Linked DNA regions of Homo sapiens. The protein of the gene in region 1 purifies or fractionates together with the protein of each later gene. This does not show direct contact. Each region holds a gene or a part of one and is shown on either strand. Other genes may lie near its edges.

The links. Proteins that work in one complex are often made in the same cells at the same time.
Region 2: the proteins of TRMT1L (region 1) and UFD1 fractionate together in Homo sapiens (co-fractionation; one large-scale study listed by BioGRID). This does not show direct contact.
Region 3: the proteins of TRMT1L (region 1) and GNE fractionate together in Homo sapiens (co-fractionation; one large-scale study listed by BioGRID). This does not show direct contact.
Region 4: the proteins of TRMT1L (region 1) and VRK1 fractionate together in Homo sapiens (co-fractionation; one large-scale study listed by BioGRID). This does not show direct contact.

What each region holds. Positions count from the first base shown.
Region 1 is NC_000001.11:185,135,697-185,140,631, forward strand, and holds part of TRMT1L (tRNA (guanine(27)-N(2))-dimethyltransferase), read right to left. Parts: intron 4,527-4,935; coding exon 4,277-4,526; intron 3,884-4,276; coding exon 3,671-3,883; intron 2,101-3,670; coding exon 1,910-2,100; intron 1-1,909. UniProt on the Homo sapiens protein: Specifically dimethylates a single guanine residue at position 27 of tRNA(Tyr) using S-adenosyl-L-methionine as donor of the methyl groups. Dimethylation at position 27 of tRNA(Tyr) is required for efficient translation of tyrosine codons.
Region 2 is NC_000022.11:19,451,314-19,455,639, forward strand, and holds part of UFD1 (ubiquitin recognition factor in ER-associated degradation protein 1), read right to left. Parts: intron 3,518-4,326; coding exon 3,436-3,517; intron 376-3,435; exon of another isoform or gene 281-375; intron 1-280. UniProt on the Homo sapiens protein: Essential component of the ubiquitin-dependent proteolytic pathway which degrades ubiquitin fusion proteins.
Region 3 is NC_000009.12:36,216,206-36,220,894, forward strand, and holds part of GNE (bifunctional UDP-N-acetylglucosamine 2-epimerase/N-acetylmannosamine kinase), read right to left. Parts: intron 3,816-4,689; coding exon 3,633-3,815; intron 2,095-3,632; coding exon 1,978-2,094; intron 1,396-1,977; coding exon 1,160-1,395; 3' UTR 1-1,159. UniProt on the Homo sapiens protein: Bifunctional enzyme that possesses both UDP-N-acetylglucosamine 2-epimerase and N-acetylmannosamine kinase activities, and serves as the initiator of the biosynthetic pathway leading to the production of N-acetylneuraminic acid (NeuAc), a critical precursor in the synthesis of sialic acids.
Region 4 is NC_000014.9:96,799,936-96,804,870, reverse strand, and holds part of VRK1 (serine/threonine-protein kinase VRK1), read right to left. Parts: intron 1-4,935. UniProt on the Homo sapiens protein: Serine/threonine kinase involved in the regulation of key cellular processes including the cell cycle, nuclear condensation, transcription regulation, and DNA damage response.

The DNA of each region.
Region 1 (4,935 bases):
CAGTTTTTCAATTCCTAAGAATTGAAAAAAGGGAACCATTCCAAATTATTTTTGAAGGGAGTAAACTGATAGATCAAAGCCCAACTAAAATTATGCTACAAAGGAAAACTATATACCATCTCATGAAACAAGAAAATCCTTTAAAAATTAGCAAATAAAATACAACAACATATTAAAAAAAAACCTGACAATAGTTTATTCTACAAAATCCAGTTTGGTTCTATATTGGAAACTTTTATTACAATTAATCAAATTAGTAAGCCTAAAGAGAAAAACCATATAATCATCTCCACAGATGCTGAAAATGCATTATGACAAAATTCAACATCTTGATAAAATACAATAAAAATGAAGTATTCTTCCTTAATGTGATAAATGATATGTATTGTAGATGAAAAGCCAGTATTATGCTTGAATCAGAAAGCACTAGAGGCTGGGTGCAGAGGCTCATGCCTGTAATCCCAGCACTTTGGGAGGATGCGGCGGGCAGATTACTACAGGTCAGGAGTTTCAGACTAGCCAGCAAACATGGTGAAACCCCGTCTCTACTAAAAATACAAAAAGTAGCCGGGCATGGTGGTGTGTGCCTATAGTCCCAGGTACTTGGGAGGCTGAGGCAGGAGAATTGCTTGAGCCCAGGAAGCAGAGGTTGAGTGGGCCAAGATTGTGCCACTGAACTCCAGCCTGGATAGAAGACAGAGCAAGACTCCATCTGAAAAAAAATAAAAAAATAGAAAGCGCTAGAGGAAACTAAAAGTAAGGAACATGACAGAATTTCCTCCATTACCACCACCAGTTAACATTATACTAAAGTACTTGCACAAATGAAAAGCATATCATATTTGTAGGAAGCTTCAAAAATCACAGTATCTATTCTCCCCAATTTAATGTCATCAAAATAATATGCCAACTGGGTTATTATTTACTTTTATATTAAGGGATTAACAAAAGAGCAATACAGGAACACTGAAAACAAAGAGCTTTGAGTAGGGATTGCCATCACAGATATTAAATGACACTGAAAAGCCTCTATAGTCAAAACAGTATGATAGACGTGTATGAAGAAATATCCAACCACTGGAACAGAACAGAAAATCTAGAAGCAAACTCAAATACATGTGGAAATTTAGTATAAGATAAAGAAGGTATTCTCAAATCAGTGGAGGAAAGGTGTACTATTCAATACAACCTAATCTACTTTGAATAATCCAGGAATAGGAAAGCTCTTTCTAACTACAGGCAAAATCCAGACTACATAAACATTCAATTAGCAACAAAAAACTTCTGCAACACAGATTAAAAAAAAAGTGACAAAATGAGAAAAAAATCTGCAACTTAACATAGTAAGTGCTAAACTCAAAAATTCATAAAATACCAAGAACCTAACAGAAAACAATAAGCAACTGTTTCCATGTCCCAGAACTGAAACAAACAGAAAGAGCTTTATGAAGGCATAAACTACAGCTTTTTCCTTGTTTCCCATCCCCAGGCCTGGCATATAGTAGAGGCTCAATAAATGTTTATTGAATGCATTTTATAACTGATGGCTTTTATACACAGCCAGAAACATGAAAATTATTTTTATAAAATTAATGATTTGTAACAGCCTGGAAAAAACGTAATCTGACTTATGTTCCTAAAATTAGTTGAGAGTGGAAACTAAGTTATTTCTAGATGTTTCGATAGAAGGCAGAGCTAGAAAGCATATATTGTACAGCATGAGTAAATAACTTTAATAAACTCACACGAATGTCTTGTCTGTTGACGAAAGGAAATCCAGTATAGGAAATAACAAAGTTAGCACTGTAATCTTTAAAATCAAAGGACAACAATATGTATAATTAGGTATGTGATAAAGGCTTATTCAGTGGAGGATTATAGATAAACATAATATATAACTTGAATTTACCTTCTACCATATTACCATCCTTCTGAAAAATTCTCTCTTCACACCACTGACAATGGATCAGGTATTGAATCTTCTTGGCTGTTTCATCTGCTGAAGTAGGTCCCCTCAAAACTCTCACAACTACCAACACAAAATGTTCCAGAGCCACTGCAAACAGTACTTCTATGCCTTTGTTGCATCGGGCTGCAGCTCTACAATAAATTTTTTCAAGTTATTTTGTGGGCTTATCATTTTCCCTTGTTTGGCATTATACTGACAATATTAACCTGGACAGTATACTATGGATAAGTTATGGGACATCAAGAAAAATTCAATTCTCAGTAGCAGTGCTTTTAAAAGATCATTACTGTAACTTTTACAGAAATTGAAACACAGGAAATAAAAGATGCTTGGGAGGGTCTTCAGTTTCTAGACATTTTCCCTTGCGATATCCTCTCAATAGGGCAATATTTTCTGGTTTTCAGTCATTTTCACTTTGTTTCTTATCATCACCACCACATTGCTTCCTTTTTATCTATTTTATTTCCTATAAAAGCTTCTTTCAAACAGTATCTATTTATTGAGTAATGACTATATGCAGGATAGTATGCTAGCTACTGAAAATTGAGTGAAAAAAGAACAGTCAAAGTCCTTTCCACCATTAATTTCACAGACTTTTTGGATTAAGCTCTACTATATACCATTTATGTACTCTGCAGTCATATACTACATTTAATTTATATATATTACTCTGAATTTGCTGATATTACATTATAGACATTTTTAAGTATGTGCAGTTAAGTCCTTAGCATGCATACAGTAAACATCAGTTTTCAGGTAATTAGAAACAACCCTGAAGGTCTATGAAGTCTAATAATCTGTATTTATCCTGAGGTAGAAATTTCTACTTAAATGCTCTGAAACTAGTATTGGGGCTGGCAAGTGAGCTGGCTGATTATCCATTATCTATATTCACAATATCCGTTTATATTATATTATTCTAGCATAATCTGCATATAGTAAGTGCTCAAAAAAAGTCATCCTTTTAAAAAATAACTGTTTTCAAATTCTGTTTGGAAATCCTGGTGAGAAATGGAGAGAACTTCCCATTTTGTAAGACCATTTTGCAGAATCAAGTTTGTAAGCCATCATTTTATTCAAACTATATAAATAAAGAAGATAAAACAGAATGGATATAAAAGAAATGACTGTTTCTTTCTGAGGCAGAGTCTCACTATGTTGCCCAGGCTGGAGTGCAGTGGAGCAACCTTGGCTCACTGCAGCATGTGGCTCCTGGGTTCAAGTGATTCTAGTGCCTCAACCTATAATCGTAGCTGTGATTACAGGTGTGTACCAACATGCCCAGCTAATTTTTGTATTTTTAGTAGAGACGGGGTTTCACCATGTTGGCCAGGAGTCTTGTTTCATCCTGGGCAACATGGTGAAAAAACAAAACAAAACAGTTTTTGCTTTTCCTTTCATATAGCTATCCTTTATCCTACATTGTTGAAATAAACTGGAAATTAACTTTCACTTTTACCTTTTCTTTCTTATACTTTATTTCAGTAACATTTTAATTGGAGAGTAAACTGAATATTTCAGGTATAAACTTTTAAATAAAATTACAACAGATACCACGTAAGATTAAAAACCAGTATTACAGATAAGGAATACAGAATTTATATTTTGTGCATATTTTGAATAAGGTAAGTACTTCTTGTAATATTATCTCTTTTTATCAAATACTGAAACACACTAAGTACACTGTTGGCAATTTGGTACCTTGCCACTGCAGCTACAACAATTCTGGCTGCTAGTTCCTTGTAATATTCAGTTCGGACAATGTTACATCCGTAGTGACGCCGGGCAACATGCTGTGCCTTGGCATATAAAGAACTGATATCTGTAGAAGTCACTGACACTATGCCAAGGTTTCTTATATTTCTGAATGCAGAATCTAGATAATTCACTGATGTTCCAAAAGGGTCTAGATGTCTAAAATCAGAAAGAATATAGACATTTTAAAGTCATATTAGTAACAAAAATTATACCACTGTAATTATTTCTAATTATAAAATTCCATGGATTTAAAAATACATTGCAAATATATTTTAAGTACATAATTCTGTTTTGAAATTAAGTAATAAAATGATAGTATGATGTATCAGACATGTAAAAATAAATTCGGGTTAGAGGAAAAGTCACATGCCCAGGCATTTTATTTCAAATACTAGAAAATTTTCATACTGCATACCTTAGGCCAATGTCAAAAAATGGCATTAATTTAAATAAATAAACAACAAAAAACTGTCTTAATTTTTAACTACTCCTCGTCCCCAAAATTTCAGATAAGTTTAGAAAGTGACACGGCAAGTCTTTTCTACTTACATGAAATCAAAAGATCTCAAATGCATCAGTACATTGGCATCCATTTTGGTCACCTTAATATTACCAAGATTTTTCTCTCCTTCTTCAAGAATATCATCACTCTTTTCCTTTTCCTTACTGTCCACCACCACTTTCAATTTGTTTAAATGGCAGTTTTCCTGAATCAGTGTCACAGAATTTTCATTCAAGTCATTGATTGTAACTTTGACTGCATTTCCAAGATGTTTTGCCCACTGTAATCCCATTATCCCTTAGGAAAAATGGGAAGAAAATGAGTTTTATAATTGTAATAATTTTAAAGAATAAAAATGGTATAACAACATTCAGTTTTATAAATAACAAATTATTTCAAAATTTAATGTTTTCATGAATCTTATTCCTTCTTACTACAAAGCTTCTCAAGAAAGGTTATAACTAAAAATCTGTCTAACAGATTTTAACTAATACTTCTTCTAAACCTATTTTATGATCCTTGTTCAAATAAAATCTCTATGTATGCTTTTTATTTTGTTGAATAGTGGAAAATGTTTTCTTTTTTGCTTTTTTTCTGACCATGGAATACTTTATACAAATGGGATTACTCTGCTTGAAGGGAGGATGGGAAGTTGGAATACCTCCTGCTGAAGTTTACCATCATGGACCAAAATATGAAAAACTTT
Region 2 (4,326 bases), on another chromosome or scaffold:
AGTTTTCTACCAGTGGACATTGTTGTGGTAAGCAGCTTAATGTATTTGCACACAACTCTGATTTTTTTTAGAGCTCAAATTCCTGGGTCAAAGTGTGTACACACTTTTAATGCTTTTAACATATAGAGACCAACCAGCCCTCAGAAACATTCCACTAAGCTATCCTTCCATCAGCAGAAAGAGGGATTGTTTTTTCCCAAACCTTTGAAAACTGCACATATTTTTTTTCACATGCTTTTATTGCTAGTCAGTCTGAGGCATTATCTCAACTTTTCCCTAGGAAGAAGAGGATTCTGGAATGTTCAACACACATCCCTGCACCTGGCTCCCCACTAACTGTAGCATGTTATACCTGCAATAGAGCACTGTTTAGTATTTATGTGGTCACATTCATGTAAATTTGAGTCACAGCTGCATTTAGTCTTCCTTTGCCGCACAGCCTTCCATTCATCCTGGTGTCAATAGCTGTGTTTGGCTTCTTCCTCTATTCAATCACAGCCTGCATTGCATGGAGTTCATCTGTTTTGACAAACCTGTGTCTCCTGGGCCTTCGCCCTGCCGTACCTGGACTGGCCTTTCTCTAGGTGCCGTACATGTTAGTGGGGGCTCCTTATTTCCTGGATTCTATGACTTTCTTATTTCTACCTTATTCCTTCATTTTAGTGAGGAACACCTCCTAGGAGCTTCCTGAGAAAAGATGCATGAGGATTATCTTCTTGTGAGTTCCTTTTTTCTAATCTCATATTTCATTGATAGGCTGGTTGGTATGTTAGTCTGCTAGGGCTGCCATATAAAATGCCAAAGATAGGGTGGCTCAAACAACAGAAATTTATTCTTCATAGTTTTGGAGGCTAGAAGTGCAGGATCAAGGTGTCAGCAGGTTTGGTTTCCTCTGACACCCTTTTCCTTGGCTTGCAGATGGCTGCCTTCTTGCTGTGTCCTCACATGGCCCTTCCTATGTCCAAATTTCCTCTTCTTAAAAGGACACCAGATTGAATTATGGCCAACTCTAATGGTCTTATTTTAACTTAATTGCTTCTTTAAATGGCCCTATCTGAGTTACTGGGGGTTAGGGCTTCAACACAGAAACACTGGAGGGACACAATCCAGCTCATAAGAGTTGGTACAGAATTTTAGGTTGGAAAAAATTTCCCCTCAGAATTTTGAGTATATTGCTCCACTATCTTCTAGTTTCCTCTGTGTCCTGCTAAGATGATGTCCCTTTTTTTGGGAGACAGGGACTTACTGTTACCCAGGCTGGAGTGCAGTGGTGTGATCTCAGCTCACAGCAGCCTCCACCTCCCAGGCTCAAGTGATGCTCCCAACTCAGCATTAAAGTAGCTGGGACTATAGGTGCGTGCCACCATGCTTGGCTAATTTTTAAAATTTTCTGTAGAGACAGGGTCTCCCTATATTGCCCAGGCTGGTCTCAAACTCCTGGGCTCAGATGATCTTCCCGCATCAGCCTCCCAAAGTGTTGGGATTACAGGTGTGAGCCATGGCGCTTGGCTGATGATGTCCTTAATGCATGGTGATACCTCTGTTCTCTCTCTAGAAGCTTTAGGATCTTTCTTTGCCTCAAAGTGGGGCTATTTTCATTCATTTTGCTGGAACTCAGTGAGCCCTTCAAATCTGCAAAATTGTGCCCATCTTTGGGGAAACTATTTCCCTGATGATTTCTGCTCCTTTGGTTTCTGTGGCTGTTCTTCCCACAAATCCTCTATTATTTAGATGCTGGAATGGAAAGCTTTCTGACTGTGGCCTTCACTTCAGAGATAGTAGTCTAGAGACCTACTGGAGTCGAGCCTCCAGCCTTCTGGGATGGGGGAGGGAGGGTAATGCAGCTCTAACTGCTTAGTAACAGAATTCTGTCTTTAGTCCCTCATTTCTAGAGGTGCCTTTTGAGAATTCCACAATCTACACAGAACTGCTTCTAGGCTTTCTATGGTCTACTAAGGTACCTGGGGCTTCCAAAGCCTTGTAGTTGCCTCCTCTTCCACTGTCTTTCTTACCTCATGACCTTTAGCCACAGCCTTAGTGGGGCTGCAGGATGGAATAGAGCTAAATATGTCTTCAATCCCATCTTTAAACATATACTTCTTAAATACATATTTATGGTCAAACAGGCCTGCTGTGCCCACTGGCCTCCCCTGCCTTCTGTAAATTTGCAACAGTCAGGTCACAGTCAGCCTGGGGGACGTCCCATGCTAAGGTCTTAGGTCGGAGTCAGGCACTGGCTTTTAGTGAGAAAGGCAGCCTGTAGCTGGTGAAGCCTGGATGGTGCCTGAAGGAGGAGCTGGAGGGTGAGGTCTGACTGGCCACTATGTTTGCTCCTCTGAGCCTGAAAGGTCCCAATGCCCAATGCTGTTTCAACTTGAACATTGAGCCCAGAAGTGGTTGTGAGTAGGACCAGGTGTGCAAACTTCACAGTGGTCTCTGTCCCCAACCACCCCAAGTGCTAGAGAAAAGAGTTCAGTAATTGGGATGGCTCCCATGTAGCAGCTGGTCCTGAATGGGTGGCTCAGTACATCTGCCCTCTGCCCTGATCCTGGATCCTCAAGGGTCCAATCCTTTGAGAAAAGGAACCAGGAGAGCGATGGGTCTGAAGCGCTGGTGTTGTAGAAATCCTCATCACAAAGAGGTGACTGCGTTCCAGTTGCTGCCAGGCCTGGCCATATTCCCACAAAGTGCCCATGTCTACAGGATGCTCAGCCCTTGCCTTCCTCTGTCCCGCCACCACCCTGCTCAGCTAGAAGGTGCTGCCTATATTTGAAGTTCAAGGTCTCTGTTGGAAGACGAAGCCCACCCAGGGCACACAGTTCTGTGATAACAGAGCCTGGAGTCGGCTCTAGAGCAAGACAGAGCTCCTGACCCCCATGCTGCAAGTCTTCTGTTTCATACACCCTACACCAGCTCTACAGAAAAAAACAGGACACCAGGGAGCAGAGGGACCCTAGGAAAGGGAAAACATGACAGACACCCTCATGTGGTTTGGCTGCGTCCCCACCCAAATCTCATCTTGAATTACCACGTGTTGTGGGAGGGACCAGGTGGGAGGTAACTGAGTCGGTGGGAGGTAACTGAGTCATGAGGGCGGGTCTTTTCCGTGCTGTTATCATGATAGTGAATAAGTCTCATGAGATCTGATGGTTTTATAAGTAGGTGTTTCCCTGCACCAGCTTTTTCTCTGCCTGCTACCATCCATGTAAGATGTGACTTGCCCCCTGCCATGATTGTGAGGCCTCCCCAGCCATGTGAACTGTAAGTCCATTAAACCTCTTTCTTTTGTAAATTGCCCAGTCTCGGGTACATCTTTACCAGCAGCTTGGAAACAGACTAATGCACACCCCTACTCAGAATGCCAAGAACTTCAGTCATCACTAGCAAATAAATCTCCTCATTACCAACCAAGGAAATACAAGGAAATACACTCACCTCTTCAACCTTTTTGACAAGGGGACGTGAATTTCTGATGAAAGTTATCTTACCAAGTTTAAATTCATAATTGGGAATTCCTCTGTAAGAAGAGACAGAGACAGAGAAATGTTATTTCCAGGAAAAAAGGACTAAAATTCATTTTTGACAGTCAAGAGGAACGCAGAAAAGATGCTGCTGCACCCCACCTGGGCCCTTTGGTGCTTCCTGGCATCCTCCCAGGAGGGAAGCAGAAAGTAACTGACTTCTTGGTTTGGTATCAATATTGGGTATAGGGCCAGGGGCTTTAGGCTCTGTACCTGTCTATGGAGAGGGGTCATCTGAAGGATTGGGAAGCCCTCACTGTCACTGTCCTGAGCTTCACAGAACCCCCTGAGGTGGCTAGACTCTCACTCCAGTATTCTGATTTCACACACACAACAGACAACTGACACACCTCAGCCCTGCCCCTGCCATCATGGCCACCAGAGGAAGGGTCTGCTGTGGGTCCCCGGACCCAGCAACAGAAGCACATCTGAGGTAGCTCCTCAGGGAACTTTCAGGGGAACTGAGATAATGTGACCTGATTAATAATTCCAAGTCACAAAACAGGAAAATAGGCAGATCACCAAATAGGGACCAGAAAGGTTTTGAGTAAGAGACAGATCTAATCAGACTCGCATCTTAGGAAAGCCAGTGGGGGCAAGAAGAGGCTGAATTGGGGGTATGGAGAGGTATGGAGAGAGGCTGGACCACAGTGGTACTGGGGGTGGCACTGTGGAAGGAGGGGCATGTTGTGCTCCACCCCACCAAGGAGAGCAGCTAAGGGTTTTAGTCCCTTGGGAGACTACTGACCCAGGCTTTGTCTCCAGAACTGGGGTGAGGCTGCCCGACCCCAGCGGGCTGGCACAG
Region 3 (4,689 bases), on another chromosome or scaffold:
CTTTAAAAACAATAAAGCTGTTTTAAAAAAAAGTGTACTTAAGCCCTTCCTGGTAAGATTTCCCTCTGTTCTCTGACTGGATCACCTTCTGTGATCTTAGTTTGGGGTTAGAGGAGGAAGGATGTGTGTGTGTGTGTGTGTGTGTGTGTAGACGGAGTCTCGCTCTGTCACCCAGGGTGGAGTGCAGTGGCATGATCTCGGCTCACTGCAACCTCCGCCTCCCGGGTTCAAGCAATTCTCCTGCCTCAGCCTCCCGAGTAGCTGGGACTACAGGCACATGCCACCACGCCCGGCTAATTTTTGTATTTTAGTAGAGATGGGGTTTCACCATGTTGGCCAGGCTGGTCTTGAACTCCTGACCTCAGGTGATCCGCCCATCTCGGCCTCCCAAAATGTTGGGATTACAGGCGTGAGCCACTGCGCCCAGCTGGAAGGATTATTATTATTATTATTATTATTATTATTATTTATTATTATTATTTTTGAGATGGAGTCTTGCTCTGTCACCCAGGCTGGAGTGCAGTGGTGCGGTCTCAGTTCACTGCCAGCTCCGCCTCCCTGGTTCATGCCATTCTCCTGCCTCAGCCTCCCGAGTAGCTGGGACCCGCCACCACACCCAGCTAATTTTTTGTATTTTTAGTAGAGACGGGGTTTCACCATGTTTCACCATGTTAGCCAGGGCGGTCTCGATCTCCTGACCTCGTGATCCGCCCGCCTCGGCCTCCCAAAGTGCTGGGATTACAGGCGTGAGCCACTGTGCCCGGCCTGGAAGGATTATTAATGCAAACTTCAGGATGAAGTGATATCCCAGGCAAGGCCTGAAGGTCTCAGTGGTATTAATACATTAGTAAGCAGAGTTCTAAGAAGGCTTCCTCTCTATTATTGTAGCTGCTTTGGCACAGAAAATTGTGACTGTAACTTACAGGGTTTGAGCTAAAATGACCCCTAGTAAGAAGACATCAGAAAGAATAGCATCTACAAAAATAGGAGTGGGGAAAGGTGACTCTGGAAGAGGAGACCAAAAGTGAAAACATTTCTCTGCCAAAGTCACCTGCAGTTCAATACCAGATTTGATTGTTAAGAAACGGTCATCCTAAAGACAAGAACTTGATTCCACTCAGGAGCTCTGGAGAGAAGGTCCATGTCTGTTCCTGGAGGTCTAGTAGATCCTGCGTGTTGTGTAGTCCAGAACCATGCTGGCAGCACCCAGCAGGGCGGGGTCAACCAAATCCGAAACCACCACATCCACGTCCTGCACGGAGGACAAGGCCTGCTGGCGAATGACGTCTTTGACAATGTGGATATAGTGACTGGCCAGGACTCCGGAGAGGATCACAAGGGAGGGATTCATGGTATGGAGGATGTTCACAACCCCAAGACCCAAAGCTGTTCCAGCTATAGGGAGACAAAAATTAAAATGAGTTTCTGAGAGAAGCCAAAATCAAAATACCAAAGAGGAAGGCAGAAAAGAGCCAGCAGCAGAAATGTTAAAGAACATCCACGGCATGCAGTGGGAGGCAGTGTTTTAAAAGCAGTTCACGGTTGATTCTTAATATGAGAAAATGATCATGTGACAGCCTCAAGTGGAAAAAGCCGGGTGTACCACATGATCTCCACTAGGCAAAAAAATGAATAGAAAGACTCGAAGGAAATGTTAATAGTTGATACCTCCAAATGGGAAAACTAAGTGATATTTTTTCTTACAACTGTCCTATATTTCTCTAAATTTCCTGTAAAATGAAAGGAGCATTTTTATAGTTGTCAAACCAAACCAACCACCTGCTGAAAAAGGCAATGCTGCCAAATACCTTGAATCCAATTCCCTTTTTACCTCTGAGTAATTAGGAAAGAAACCTCTGAACAGACACTGCAAAGCACCTGTCCCTAGGGAAGCAGGGTCTCTTCTGGGGCCGGGCTGGGCCATATGATATCTGAGGCCACCCCCTGCAGCACAGCCACCTGCAGCCACATGCTCACCTGTTCTTAGGATGCTCTGGGCCTTCGCATTGCCAAGTTTCGCAGCTTGGATGAGATGGAGCGCACCCACAGCCTCATCTTTTGGCACTGACATCCCTTCCACCAAGAGCAGGTCCTCTGAACAGAGTGAGAAGGAAAAGCAGTCACTAATGAGCTGTGGGGAGGCCAAGCTCACCACTGGGCCTGTGGAAAGCAAGCCCCTACATGGGAAGACGGTGTTTTCTTTTCACAATTGCAAAGCTTATCGTTCACAAACATCTCTATACACTGCCCCTAAAGCCTTTGCTACCCTCTTGCTAATTGGTTGTACATAACCCAGAACCTATCTTCCTGGAAAAACCTCAAGTCTGACGACAGCCTCCTACCCCTCTGGCTCCCTCACTTCTCACTTCCAGTAGCAGACAGTCTTTGAAGTGTTCTTTTCTCCAAATTATCACCCTCCTCCCACATTCACTCCTTCCTTACTCATCCCAGACACAATGCTGTGCCATCTGCCAGCGCCACGCGTTCTATGGCAGCGAGGCACAGTGGCTGAGGAACAGACACAGGCCTGGGGTCAGTGCCAGCTCTGCCACTCCCAGCTGCATGACCCCATGCCTGTCACCTCACCTGTACACATTCCTCCTTCCTAGAAGATGAGACCAGTAGTGCCTCCCCTGGCAGGGTTATTTGAGGAACGGAATGAGATCATGGACATAAAGTATTTAGTTAAGTGCTGGCCACAGTAAATGCTCAGTAAGCAGCAGGTATTTCTGTGGTTATCTGTAGTCCTTGTCTTCTGCCCGTCACCAACTCAGATCAATCTGCCTCCTACTAATCTGCTAGAATATCTGGACCCTGAAGGAGAAAAATCCCCAGCTGTGCAAACTGCAACCTAGACATCAACTGGTGGTCTCCTGTCTCCCCTGGGCCCTCACAGCTCTCACCCATTCTCTCTGACTGCGCTTTTCTATACCTTCACCACCTTCCCAGTCCTTCTACCCCCACTGCCAACAGACGAGCATACTTCTTACCTCTCTCATAGGGGGCACCACCAGGCAGTGATCCCCTACCTTTTTGCTTCCTGTCCCATACACCCATCATCTCGGCTCGCCATGCCCTCTCGTGGACCCTCTGCCTGGCTTTGCAGCTCATCTCTTCCCACCTCTTCAGAACCCTACTGTAGGGCTCTATACACTTCTCTCCTGCACTCTCGGCCTCCACTCCCCATCTCTTTTCCTTCAGCATATGCTCACAAATTGGTTTTGGGGGCCAAAAATCTACACTGTTTTTATGTATGAAGCACAGATATACTACACATACAGTGCATGTATGTGTGATATATACATAACATGTTTTGTCCATTTATTTCTTCATTAAAATGTGTATTAAGTACCCTCCCTGTGATACTGGCTGAGAAAACAAAACTGAAGGAAATCTTCCCTGCTGTCTTGGAACTCTAGACCTCTGTCCACCACCACCCCTGGGGAGGAAGAGTGGCAATATGGGTCAGCCAAGAAGACTGTGCAGTTTTAGTGCGAGGGAGCCCTGCTCTTTCCCTAAGAAGTGAAAAGGGGGAAACTTCTGGCTTCAGTGTTCAGCTGTCTTTGGAATTTCCACTTTGAAGTACTTGTCTACTATTTGGTTACTTAATTCCTCGAGAGAGGGACACCAACCATCATGGAGCTTTTTTGCCTCCCTCTGCAAGGCCATTCCAGAGGCGTATGCTTCAATGCACCCATGGCTTCCACAGGAACAATCAGGCCCATCCAGAGACACAACAAGGTGGCCCAGTTCTGCAGCACAGAAGGAGCTTCCGTGGATCAATTCATGCTGATGGATAATTCCACCACCGATTCCTACAGCGAGGGATAGAAATCACTGAGGGTGCTTTACCTGAAACAGAAAACTATGATATCACAACGCCTCATCTATTTAGCAGAGCTTTGGCATGTGAGGGTCTATAGATACTTCTTTAGACAGCTGAAGCCCACTAGGCATCAAAGCATTCTCTGGCAGCATTTTGGATGGAAATGTTTTTAGCAGATCCTCTGATGCCCTGTGACCCATCTGCTTGGGTCACTGTGATTTCAAACACAGCTGTGGGGACAGTGCAGCAAAAATGCATGCCCACCTTGTGGGTAGCAGACCCCCTGGCCCAGCACACACTGTCCATCTTTCTGCACCAAGGCTTTCTCTAACACTGAAGCAAGAGCCTACTCAGCCACGCAGGCACAGCACCCAGGGGCAACCTGCAACCGAGGCAAGGCAGGAGCCGGCAGATCCACAGGACAATTCTGGATGCTGTTCTGCAGGCTTCTTAGGAGGTGCTAGTGGAGTTCAGCCCCCTTTGCCCTCAAGTCAACTTCAATAATGTTAATATATCCTTAATGGCTTTCTTCCTGCTCTGTTTCATTCTTCCCACTCACCCTCCTGCTTCTTGTGGTCACCTCCAAAAAACCATACCTGTACCTAAATCCTTGTCTCAGGCTCTGCTCTGAGGAATACCCAAGATAAGTCTTTTAAAATGTATCACACACTACCTGCTTCCTGAAGCAGAAAATATGAAATAATGATTTTGCCTTTTTTGATGCTGCCATGTCTAAAAATCTGTGATTCAATAATTATAAATATCAGTGACTGTCTTTTGTTATGGCGTTTAGCAGTTACAAAGGAGTAAAGGGTATTGTGCCTGAGAAGGCTCTGCTTTTAAGGGTTGTCTTGCCATCTGTC
Region 4 (4,935 bases), on another chromosome or scaffold:
CAAAAGTTTGAAATCTACCACTGCCTTCTAGAAAATACTAGGAATTTATAACATTCTGAAGTAACACCACTTTTTTAGCTTTCTGGCAGATATTTGTAAAACAAAGTTGTAAGTCAAGGGTCATGATTATATCCTGTTCTTCCTACCAACGTATCACTGCCACAAATGGTCCTAAAACAACTTCTCTTTAATACCATTTCTATCATACCATTTTCCTGATTAAGAATATACAGCACCTTCCTAATAGCCAATGAAACTGATTACAAATGCTTCAATCTAGCCAGAAGTTTATATACTCTTTCTTTTTCACGAACCAATGATCCTTCCTTTACTTCTCTACTTCCCTTCACTTGCATGACTCCCAAAAATAGCCAGTTCTTACTTATTTTCTCTAGAACAGATCTTTGCCCATGTTATTCTCTAAAATGTTTTCCCACTTTTTCCAGACTCCAGCCATGTTATACCTTCAATAAACCTGTATTTATTAATAGTTAATTGCTCATTCATTTCTTCCTGTCTTTGTTTTGATACCTAATTTACAGTATATGGCCAACTGATTTTTGATTTTTAAAACTTATTGAATGGAGAAAGGGTAGACTTTTCAACAAATGGTTTTGGAACAACTGGACATCCATGGACAAAAGGAAAAGAAAAATGTACCAAGATCTAAAGCTCACATCCTGTGCAAAAATGAAACCAAAAAGGATCACGGATCTAAATGTAAGACATATAAGGGTAAAACAGAAGAAAAAATGAGAACAACCTCCTGACCTAGAGTTAGGCAGAGAGTTCTAAGATAGGCACTAAAAACACGATCCATATATTGAGAAGTTGGACTTTAACAAAATTTGAAACTTTTTTGCTGCTAAAGACACTGTTAAGAGAATGAAAAGACAAGCCAGAGACTGAGAGAATATATTTACAAATCATATATTTGGCAAAGGATTTTGTATACACAACATATAAAGAATGCTCTAAAATCAGTAAGAAAACAAACCAATCACAAAACGGGTAAAAGACTTGAACAGACAAATCACCAAAAAAAATATGAATGGCAAATAAGCACATGAAATCATCAGCCATTAGGATGCAAATTAAAGCCATGACAAGATACCAGTACGCACAAAAAATATCACCAATACCAAATGGTAGTGAGGTTGTGGAGAAACTGTATCTCTCAAACACAGCAGCACCCCCTTCATCTGTGAGGGATACATTCCAAAGCCCTCAGTGGATACCTTAAATGGTGGAGAGTATGGAGAGTATCGAACCCTACATAAATACGTTTTTTCCTATACATACATTAGATAGACATACTTATGATGAAGCTTAATTTATAAATTGGAGCCAGTTAAGAGATTAACAACAATACTAAGAGTAATTATAACAATATGTCAGCGGCCAGATGCGGTGGCTCACTCCCTGCAGTCCCAGCACTTTGGGAGGCAGAGGCAGGCGGATCACCTGAAGTCAGGAGTTCGAGACCAGCCTGGCCAAAATGGTGAAACCCTGTCTCTACTTAAAATGCAAAAATTTGCGGTGCGTGGCAGCAGGCGCCTGTGACCCAGCTACTAGGGAGGCTGAGGCAAGAGAATCGCTTGACCCTGGGAGGCGGAGGTTGCAGTGAGCTGAGATCACACCATTGCACTCCAGCCTGGGGGACAAGATAAGAGACCTGCCTCAAAAAAAAAAAAAAAAAAAATGCCAGCATCACTAGTCTTGCACTTGGGGTCACTACTAAGTACAATAAGGGATTCTCAAACACAAGCACCAAGACACCAGACAGTCAATCTGATAACCAAGAGTGACTAACTAGCTGGTGGGTAGTGTATACAGTGTGGATATGCTGGACAAAGGGATGATTTACACCCCACCTGGGACAGAATAAGAGGGCTCAAGGTTTTATCACTATATGACCCAGCAGTTGAATTTCTAGATATTTATTCTAGAACAATTAAAACTTACAGTCACAAAAGAACCTGTACATTAATGTTCATAGCAGCTTTACCTGCAATCACCAAAAACCAGAAACAACCCACATGGCCTTCCATGGGTAAATGGTTAAATGTGATACAGCCATAAAATGGACAAGCACTGTGCAATTATCAAAAGCAGGAAAGTGACACTAATACAATATTCATCACTGAACTACTTATTGAAATGTCAGCTTTTACATTCTTTTGTGTGTCTAATTCTAGGACATTGTGTCATGTGTACAGATTCATGTAACCATCACCATAAACAAGACACTGAACTGTTCTATCATCTCAAAGAAAGTCAGCCCTAACCCCAGCAAAACCGGTCTGTTCTGCATTTCTATAATTTTGTCATTTTGAGAATCCTATATAAATGGAATCATACAATCTCTGAGACTGGCTTTTTTCACTCAATACAATGCCCTTAAACTCCAACCAAGTTGCTGCATGAACCAACAGTTTGTTTCTTTTTTTGATGGTGGTGTTCTACCGCAAGACTATCACATTTTATTTAACCATTCACCCACTGAAGGACATGTGAGTTGTTTCTGGTTTTTAGCTATTATAAACAAGGCTTCTACGAGCATTCATGTACAGGTTTTTTTGTGAACGTTTTTATTTCTCTAGGATAAAGGCTCAGGAGTGCAATCGCTGGATTGTGTGTCAAATGTACGTTTAACTTTTCGAGAAATTGCCAAACTAATTTCCAGAGTGGTTATATCATTTTACATTCCTACCAGCAACATATGAAAGATAAATTTTAGAGTCAGCATTTCTAAAGTATTTTCTGCAAGTCTGAAAAAACAAGATTAAACTTCTTAAATGTTATAACCTGAACTTATTTTTAAAAAATGAATTTTAAAACTTTTTTCCTGATTCCCAAATAACAGATTACCTCTAAGAAAAAAATGCATACAGCTGACCCTTGAACAACATGAGTGTGAACTGTGCAGGTCCACTTATACACAGATTTTCTTCTGCCTCTGCCACTCCAAGACAGCAAGACCAACCTCTCCTCTTGTTCCTCCTCCTGAGCCTACTCAACACCAAGACAATGAGGATGAAGACCTTTAAGATGGCCCACTTCCGCTTCATGAACAATAAATATATTTGCTCTTTCTTAGGGTTTTCTTAATAATATTTTCTTTTCTCTAGCTTATTGTATTGTAAGAATATAGCATATAGTACATATACAAATATGTGTTAATTGTTTATGCTATTGGTAGGGCTTCTGGTCAACAGGCTATGAGTGGTTAAGCTTTTGAGGAGTCAAAGCTTATACATGGATTTTCAACTGCATGGGGGTCAGCACTCCCAACCCCTGAGTTGTTCAAGGGTACACTGTAATTACATATAATCTCTATGTTGATAGCTGTTGCCAAATTACATAGTAAACTGCAATAAGATGTGAAAAAAGCAACTCTAAAGACTACAGTAGAAACATTAACAGTTTCTCTCCCTGTGTCTTCCAGACACATTCTATAAATACTTAAGGTCTAATAGTTCTTTCTAACACTTAATATTGTGAAACGCAATCACAATGCACTAATACTTAGTGTCATCAAATGATGACTTTTCTTTAGCTGTCACTTGATAAAAACAATCTAAGAAAAGCAATTAACCTGAAATAAAGCTGTGGTTATCTTAGCTATGTCTAACTTCATGGTTTGTTTAATTTTAGATATAAATGACAATTAGATAATGCAATCTCTTTTGGATTCTTAAAGCAAGTATCTAAGTCTAGAGCAGACATATCTGCCGACATACAAACAGCCAGACAGACGGTCCTCAAAAAGAAAATAAAATAAATACACAGAAAGAAATTATAAGGTCCCTGGAACAGTGGAATGAGGCTGCTCGTGTTCCTAATGACTTTCAGTTCTCATGTTTAGTCCCCTGCAGGACCAACTATATTGTTCCTGATACTGAGCTCCACAAGACACGTGTCCTTCCATTATCAGTATGATATTTGCTTTAAAAGTATATGACAGACCATTCCCAAATCTCAAATTTAATTTGCTTGTGCTTGCAATTTAATTATTTACTTCATCTAGTATATCTTCCCATTTAATGAATTACTTACCAATAAACATTTTAGTATACACGTTTAATATTCATCTTAAATATTTGCCAGTGTGAACAGTATCTACCTTAATTTTCAAATCCTAGAGTACTGGTTCCCATCCTATGGGCAAGAAACCCATAGAGAGATAGGAGTAACTGCAAAGAATCATCAAAATCCATATACTTACCTAAAGACTAAATAAATGTGATTCACAAACATATATGTTTCCAAGCTGACAAAGATACTGTGGCTAATAAAAATCTTAATAAATTTCCTGAAGAATGTTGGTAAAAGTAGAGCAGTTTCTTCTCATCAGTATTTATTGATGAATACTAAAAATCTAACTCCTAATATGGGAGAAGGGCCATCGCTCGTACCTCTCTAGATTTTCTAGAGAGCTTTTCTTTTTTAAAGTGTTGCCCATATGTCACTCAGAACAGGAGGAGTAGGATGTGCTTGAATTTGAGTGCAAAGATTTAAGACAACATTGGGAGAGATGGAGCAGGAGTAATTGGGAAAGTGCATGAAATTACTTCAAAACAGCAACTTCAGAATGCTGGGTGCTTAAATATCATTCAAGCACCAAAGGGAAAAAATTCAAAGGACAGAGCCCTCTGCATCTTTATAATGGCAAGTAGAAATATATTCACAGGAATTTTGATCAAAAGAGCCAAACTTATCCTAGAGTAAAAATACATCTTGGTTACAACACCTACCTAAATGTTTTATTAGGGTTCTATCACCCTTTTAAATTAATCTTGTACCTTTATTAAACATTTTCTACATTTTAACATTAATAGTGCAGTTTTTCAAAGGCGCCCTACACATTTATTGGATTATTCTGTGCTGGATGCTAGATAAAGTTAAAAAAAAAAAAAAAAAGACGTACACTAA